3 separate regions of the Homo sapiens genome follow, and regions 2 and 3 are each linked to region 1. Evidence: fine-mapped expression QTL. A gene starts in region 1. Each other region holds a variant in brackets. All regions are shown on one strand. Distances are between the middles of the regions. Region 1 holds the start of KRR1 (KRR1 small subunit processome component). Region 2 overlaps LOC105369844 (a long non-coding RNA gene). Region 3 has its middle 170 kb from the start of PHLDA1-AS1.

Region 1 (2,769 bases):
ATGAAAAAATAAATTGGGGTATATTCATACAAGGAAACACCACATAACAGTGAAAAGACTAAAACTACACCCGCAAGTATCACCCTGTTTGAAAAACAAAAAGCTAAATCTAAGAAGACACAGAAAAATGCATACGGTCCACTTTCATGTATATAAAATTAAAAAACAGGCTAAATTAAGCCACTTCATGACTACAAGAAGAGGAACAGAATGCAACACAATTCAGGGTGGTTACGTCTGATACAGGAAAAGAGAATATGATCTGAGAGGTGCACGTAAGGGTTTGAGGGGTATGGTAATGCTCTATTTTACTTAGTCTGAATGCTAGTTTCCCGCATGGTTTTATTAAACTCTATATAAGTTGTATCCCCTGCTATGTACGTTACATAATCATTTAATGAGCAACAACAAAGAAACTTTGAATACTTTCCCAATGCATCTAAATTGAGAGTTCAATGTTTTTAACACTTCCTATAAGCCTGGTTGAACAGATCCCCAGGCTATTTATGACTTCTCTATCATTCACACTGAAGAAAACGGGTAAAACCAGACTACAACGCAGGAGTTAACAATTAAAAGGTAACACAACCTAAACAGTAAGGGCTGTGTCGTCTAATATTTTAGCATCTGACAAACAGGAATTGATAATCTTTCAAAATGTCTTTACTGACAAACTAGAGCTAAGGACATGTCGGATAGCTCCTTTCCCCATACCTCACCCCATTATCAGGGTCCACTCTTGTATATCATGACTACCTATTCCCACCTCACCCTATTCCTCATTCCGTCAGTGACTTTCAGCCACCCGCAGGCTTACAAGGTTCTGCGTCGCCCTAGGCATTTTCTTAATACTCATCCTTTTACAAAAGACGTAATCCGCAACAGCTTCGCTTTGGGGACCCTTTAGCAAAAGCAATGAATTAGGAACACCTGGGTGGCACCATATCGGCCAGCCGTTCCTGTGGGCCCAGCCAAAATCTTATCAGCGATTATTCAGGTACTCAACTACACAGTACAGGCTCCAGGTGGTTTTATAAGTCCACGAGGAACGAAAGAAAAAAACATCGCAACTCAACGTACACAAACCCCAGGCTTCGGTTCCCACATAACATCACCTTGGTTCTCCGGCTTCGGCTTCTGGTTACGAAATTCACTTTTTCCAGCGCCTTTTTCTGGCCGCTCCAGCGAGGGAGACGCCATTTGCAAGCTGCTTCCGGTGGCTCCGGAAATGAAACTGTTCTTAAACCCTACCGGCTAAAACGCCTACACTCAAAATGAGTTCCGCGGAACTCAGACGAGGAGATCTGCGCAGTCTCCGTGCGTACGTGCGTTAAGCCCGCGCTTTTACACAAACCACAGCTTCTCCTACGTGGCCAATGAAGAGCCGGAGACTTTCTCCCAGTATGCCCTGAAACCATGGAGTTTGCGTACTGGGACTTGTAGTTTAGCAGGCGGTATAGGCAAATTGGATACTGTTTTATCCGTAGTTTCCTCGTGGCCTCACGGCCTAACCTGGACCATCGGACAGCGGAGTGCTACCAACCTGTCATTGATGTCATTCATTCTTTCGATAAATATTTATATGTTGGCCAAATATGCGCTAGATGTTGGGAGGAAGTACAAATATGAGAATACAATGTATATTGGGCCTCCACTGCAACAAGTGACAGGAATAGCTACTATTTATTGTGAGACTACTTTGTTTCAGTACTTTATTTACATTATTTCTAATTTTAAAAACAGTGACAAAATTAAACTTTTCAAAGTTGTTTCTGATGGTAATCTTCCCGAGTGTTGGTATTTCTCTAAGTCAGAGGGATGGTAATTCAACATCCTGACGTTTCTGAAGTATTTCAACTAGCCTAAGATTTCTCAAAATCTCTAAACTCCTTTTCTACCCCCAACATTACATAGGGCTAAGATGTGTAGAGAGGTTCATCACTAACTACAAATAACTACACTTTTGGAAGTATAAGAGTTCTTCGACATGCCAAATATAAGATTTTTTTAAATTTTGATTTTATTGCTTGCATTTCTAAAATTTTCTGCAGCAAATAGGGAAAGTCTTTGATAGGTTAAATTCCTTGCATTAGTGAAATACACGTTTGTCTGATAAATCCACTCTCGTGTATCTTATACAATAATTTAGGTTTTCATATATGAGATCCAGGTATGAAACAGATTGTTACATATGGACAGAAGAACCCACGACAGAGGGGTTTTTTGTTTTTATCCTGTGAGTTTTATAAATGACAGGGATTTTATCTCTGTTCTTTTAATTTCCTCAAAAAATGATAAATTCCTAAAATAGAACAGATAGCAGCAGGTGAAAGTTATAAAGTGAGGAGTACACCTCATGAAGCAGGTTTTTATCATTCTTATTTTAAGTAACTCAATCACTAATAAGTGGAAGGCCCGTCTTCAAGTTCAGGCAGTTTGACCTAGCAGCTTCAGGGGGCTACTATTCATTAGGAGCTTCAAATGTGTTAGAGGGCTGATAGGGATTAAGGGGAGGGAATAGTCTAGAAATAATATTTGTGTTAAAGCCCTTTATTTTATAGCAAAATTTTCTACATAGGCTTTTCTTCCCATTTACGTGTATATTTTTAATCTTAGTATTGCTATTATTTGAGGAATATTGAGAATATGATGGAGATGGGAAAACGAAAACCCACCCATCCTTTTCTTGGCACTATTGAGTCTGTTTGTAAAACCCAACCTTTTAATTACCATACTATGCAGAGCCCACAGTTCACCTGTCCCTTTTTG
Region 2 (2,769 bases), 120 kb after region 1:
AATTGTAAAAGGAGATCTGTGTGTGTGCATGTCTGTGTGTGTCTGTGTGTGTAGTAGGTCTCTGTAGGTCTCTGTAAAAAAAAAAAATCTACTGCTGACTGTAGTCAATACGTTTGAAAGTCACTGCCTTGGTAACATTATTTTACCCACTTACTGTCATATGACATTTAAATGCCAATGGTTTTGAAAAGTGTATCTATAGGCTAGATTTTTATCTTGAACTCAGACCCATATTTTCAACTATCTACCAGATATTAGCACTTGGATGTTCCACACGTCCCACAAATTGAGTAATAGAATGATTAAAATAATGGGCTTTGTAGCCAGATTTGAGTTTGAATTGTGGGATTTCTCAGCCTGTTTTCTCATTCTTAAAGTCGGAATAATTAAAACCTCAAAATAGTGCTGTAAGAATTTATGTCCTTAGAACAGTGCCTGGCTCACACAAAAATAAATAAATATCGCTTGAGCACCAACCACGTTCCAGGTATTGTTCTAGGCACTAGAGATTGATGAGAAAATTCAGCCCCCCCACCATATGAGACAATGCTGCTTTTCAGCGGTTTGAGAAAAAAGTTGAAATCAACAAAACATCCCCTTCATGTTTTACTGCATACATACAGTAATCCTTTTAAAACGTATTCCATCAGCAACCTTTTCAAACAGCACTTTGAAGTTTACTGAGTTATGACCACAGAATGACCTTCTTCCTGCTGAGTGTGAGTAAGCCTTCTCTCCCTGCCCCAGCTAACCACCAGGCAATTCTCAGAGAGGTCTCAGTTTTACTTGGGTACAAAATAGAACCTCTAATGTTATTGGGTGAAGGAACTTGTGTGCAGCGTTCCCAGGTTCTAGTGAATAAGATGATGTCCTTTGCCCTTGTGAAGTTTGCTGACAGTGACCACATAAACAGATACATACATGACAGTATAATTTCAGCTGATATCGTACTGTTGTAAGTATTGTTACAATGATGATGATGATTGTGATGATAAAGTAAAACCATAAACACATTATTTCCCCACTCTTTCTCCTTACACCTACCTCCTTCTCATCCTGTATTTCTAGCTGGATGAATCACATCACCTTTCACACTGTTGCCCAAGCCAAAGGCATCTATCTAGTCTATAGGCTCTACTCTATATTTCTGAAATCCATCTACTTTTCACTCTTACTATCATTGTGCTATGCCAGATTCCTACCATCACTTGCCCAAGGTTCTGTGGCAAACTCCTGATTGG[CCTTT/C]CTGCTTCCAGATCCATCCCCTCTTAATACATCATTCACATTGAAATCAGACTCCATCTAGAATGGATCTAGCCATGTCTGTTCATTTCCTAACCCTTTAAGGTCTCCCCATTGTCATCTGTAGAAAGTCTAAGCTCCTGGTGGATTTACCAGACCCTTCGTGATCTTAGCCTTGTTCAACTCTCAAGCATCATCGTTCTCAAATTCTGTCTTCTTGTTAATTAGAATGACTTACATAAATTTTTAAAGTTCTCTTTTACTTCCAGGCTTTTATCTAGACTACTCTTCCTCCTGGAAATCTTTTTGCTCTCCCTGCTTTTCTTACTTCCAACATTCCCTGCACCCCCCGCCACACCCACACACTTCCACCCTTCAATTAAGTGCACTTTGAAATTGTTTGTTTTCTTGACTCTCTCCTCTTAAGGGGAGATGTCTTTATTGGCGTATTCCAATTAACTAAAGTAAAATGCCTACGTCCCTGTATTTGTTTCCTATTACTGCTGTAACAAATTGTCACAAACATAATGGCTTAGAACAATATAAATTTATCATCTAATGTTCTGCAAACCAGAAGTCTGGCAGGTCTCATCAGGTTAAAATCAAGATATTGGCTAAAATCAAGGCATCAGCTAAAATCAAGGCACCAGCAGGACTGCATTGTTGTATTCCTTTCTGTAGGGTCTAGGTAGGATCTATTTCCTTGCCTTTTCCAACTTCTAGAGATCATGCATATTCCTTGGCTTGAAGCTGCCTTCTTTCTATTTTCAAAACTAGAATAGGCGAGGGAAGTCCTTCCCACTTGGAATCACTCTGATCTCCTCATTTGCCTCTCTCTTCCATTTTTAAGGTCCCTTATAATTACATATCACCTGGATAGTCCAGAACAATCTCCTTAATTTAAGATCATCTGATTAGCAACCTTAATTCTATTTGCTGCCTTAATTCCCCTTTGTCATATAAGGTAATATATTTATAGGCTTCTGGGATTAGGACATGGATGTCTTTGGGAGGCCATTACTCAGACTACCAGGGCCCCCATTAATGGCTCATAAATTGATATGCAAATAAGGTGTCCAGTGGATCATTACAGGGGCTGCTGTGGTGAATGGCTGTTATTCTTGCCTGCCTATCACTTATTTTCTTTCTTATGGCAATGACATCTTCATATTCCCAGAGGAGCTCCTTCTCCCCCAACTTCACACAATCTTAGTGGGTGTATTAGTTAAGGTAAGGCTTAATATCTAGTGCCAAAATTTCAGTTGCCTCAAAAAAAATTTTTTTAATGATTTCTTGCTCACATAAAGGTCCAATGAGTATTTCTAGTATGGCTATCCTCCTTTGAGTAGTTCAGAGGACTCAAAGACCCTGGTTCCTTCCATCTTGAAACTTCTCCATCGCAAAACACAATTGCCAATGTCATCTGGGAATCGTCTTCGATTTATTCATCTGGAGACAGAAAGGAGCTTGAACATGTAGGGAAGATTTCTATAGGGCACATCAGGAACTGGCATATATCATTTCTGC
Region 3 (2,769 bases), 350 kb after region 1:
TTACTGTATTTTGCAACTAAGAGAGTGTTTTTGTTTCCATGTGTGTGTGTGTGGTTTTTTTTGTTTGTTTGTTTTTTGTTTTTTTGGTTAAGTCTCATTTATGCCCAATACTAAAAAATGATAAAGGATAAATGAAATCCATAGAAAATAAAAAATACTTATCTACAGGTAACCTTAAAATATCTTTATTTATTAGTTTGCCTTAAAAATACCTTAAGAATAAGACCCAGCACTTTAGGAGGCCAAGGTGGGTGGATCGCATGAGCTCAGGAGTTTGAGACCAGCCTGGGCAACATGGCAAAACTCCATCTCTACAAAAAATACAAAAATTAACCAGGTGTGGTGGTACATGCCTGTAGTCCCAGCTACTTGGGAGGCTGAGGTGGGAGGATCGCTTGAGCCCAGGAGGCAGAGGTTGCAGAGTGAGACCCTGTTTAAAAAAAAAAAAAAAGAATAAGAGGGAAAAAGAGAAAGATAGTGCCCATATCCTAACTATGCCTTAAACACAAAAAGATGTTGTTTTTTAATCTCTTTGAAATGGCTTACCTTTGATATTGATTTTCAAGTTCAGGGCCACGAGTAAAGGAATAGTGTTAACTAGACTCAAAACAACCTGCAATTCACCTGATCAACAAGACCAGGAACCAAGTGGCCCAGGTCATGGGAGTAGTGGTTTTGTGGGACCCTGGTTAGTGGTCCTTAAAGGCCGATTTTTGTGACCTCAGGGGTTTGTGATAAACCATCCCAGTTTGCCTGGGGCTGACACAGTTTTAGCAGTGAAAATCCAGTGTCCCAGACAAACTGGGCTGGCTAGTCACCCCATGCATAGGCACCGCCTTTTTTTTTTTTTTTTTGGCCCGCCTTTCAAATCACCTTAACAAAATGTTGGTTTGATCTTTGGGATTCCAAAGGATGTTTAGGAAAGTGAAGAAAATCATAAATGCAAATTAAATCAATTTGTTCACCAAAAAGAGGTTTCTTTAAAGAGGACACCTAAATGCTTCTGCTTATAGACACATAAGAAATAAGAAGAATGCAGAAGCACTGTCTCATTGCTTCCAGGGAGAAGAATTTGGTGCTGGCTGACCAGGCAAGGATGGTAGTCTCTCACGGCATGCCCTTTTAGAGCCATTTGAATTAAATGGATGC[A/G]TATTCATGATTACACTAATTCAGTGTTGTGGAACTGTGTTCCTCAGCAGGCCTTGAGGGACCATAGGGTGGGGAATTAGGGAAGTAATAGAGATAATTGCAGACACCCTTCACCTGCTTCAAGCAGCTTTGTATTAGCTGTTTTACATTTTGGCTTCTTCACAAGATTTCACTTAAATAAAAGGTTTTATGATATTTTTAAAAGTCTAAAAACCATAGCACTAGTCCTTTTACTTACAATCTGTAAACAGCAACCCTTTCTAAACAATCCTTTACGGAAGAGAGACACCAAGGTCTACTGAAAAACTGGGGACATGGCATCAAAGGAGTCAGGTTCCAATCCTGGGTCCACGCTTGCTGTCTGTGTGACCGTGAGTAAGTTTCTTTATACCCTGGGAGCCTTAGTACCTTCATCTGTTTTCAAAAAGTATATGTATCTGTGTGTAATATTAGCCCATTGTGAGAATTAAATGCTATACTACTCATGAACCAACAAGCACTGTACCTGTGTACATAGCAAATACTCATAAATGTCTAATCTGAAACTGAATCAGTGTTAAAAAGGCATTAATGCAGAAGTAGGTTATTAAAATACTATTAAAAGGATGTGAAGAAAATAATAATACCACCTGCATATGTTTATGTCAGGTTCTGTTCAAAGTATTTTATACTAATTAATTCAATTAATAAAACAGAGTGAAAGTTAGAGATGAGTGGAAGATTAAAGGAATGGAAAATTGGCCCTATGAGGATACTGGACCAGAGATGGGGATAATGGTTTACATTAGGACAAATGTAATCTCAGCTGATCTGTAGGAGATCTCAGCTAAAAATAAAGAAGAAATTATTTGGCTATCAAGCCAATCAAATGCTGGTAAAGAGTTTGTTAGGTACTGTGACTCCACAAGGCCATTTACCTAGGGAGGGAGCTGAAATATGAGGAAGCCAGGAAAGGGACAAAGAGGCCGATAGGCTAAATCCAAGTTGGCAGAGTGTGGCCTAGATGAGTGCCCTGCCCTAGAAGGAGAGCCATAACCAAATGCCAAGCCAAAGGACCACAATGAGAAGGCTGCCCAGTCAAAAAACTGAGTCATGAGTCATGGGTTGGGGTGTAACACCCTGAAACAGCATACCAAAGGCAAGAAGGCAGTGTCTGAAAAAGCCAGCTGGGCCATGTGTGGATCTCAGCAGATTATCAACAGCTCTGCCCTACATCTCTTGCAGCCATGCAGTTCACCGTAAAGCAGTCCTATTTATGAATTGTTAGCTCATACCAAGACTCTTCCAGGAAAATTTACTGGGCTAAATAGGTGCATGATTGGCCAGTCGTGGTGGCTCACACCTGTAATCCTAGCACTTTGGGAGGCAGAGGCACGCAAATCACCTGAGGAGTTTGAGACCAGACTGGCCAACATGGAGAAACCCCATCTCTACTAAAAATGCAAAAAAAATTAGCCGGGCATGGAGGCACATGTCTGTAATCCCAGCTACTAGGGAGTGTGAGGCAGGAGACTCCCTTGAACCCGGGAGGCAGAGGTTGCTGAGAGCCAAGATCATACCATGAACTCCAGCCTGGGTGACAGAGCGAGACTTGTCTCAAAAAATAGTAATAATAAGTAA

The links. PIP is the estimated chance that this variant, and not a neighbour inherited with it, causes the effect.
Region 2: its variant is the best candidate, but not a certain one, in a credible set for the expression of KRR1 in vagina (GTEx, PIP 0.50).
Region 3: its variant is the best candidate, but not a certain one, in a credible set for the expression of KRR1 in iPS cells (PhLiPS, PIP 0.68).

Annotation. Positions count from the first base shown.
Region 1 is chr12:75,510,398-75,513,166 of GRCh38, forward strand. It overlaps KRR1 (KRR1 small subunit processome component), which reads right to left and starts at 1,212. Exons shown (of 10, transcript NM_007043.7): 1 at 1,116-1,212. The coding sequence starts at 1,200. RefSeq lists enhancers at 425-969, 970-1,513, 1,020-1,179.
Region 2 is chr12:75,635,171-75,637,939 of GRCh38, forward strand. All of the region lies in intron 8 of LOC105369844 (a long non-coding RNA gene), which reads right to left. Among named protein-coding and RNA genes, the nearest start is that of KRR1, 120 kb to the left of the region's middle. RefSeq lists a silencer at 579-873. The variant CCTTT/C (reference allele first, on the strand shown) is at 1,242.
Region 3 is chr12:75,857,833-75,860,601 of GRCh38, forward strand. No RefSeq gene overlaps it. Among named protein-coding and RNA genes, the nearest start is that of PHLDA1-AS1, 170 kb to the right of the region's middle. The variant A/G (reference allele first, on the strand shown) is at 1,150.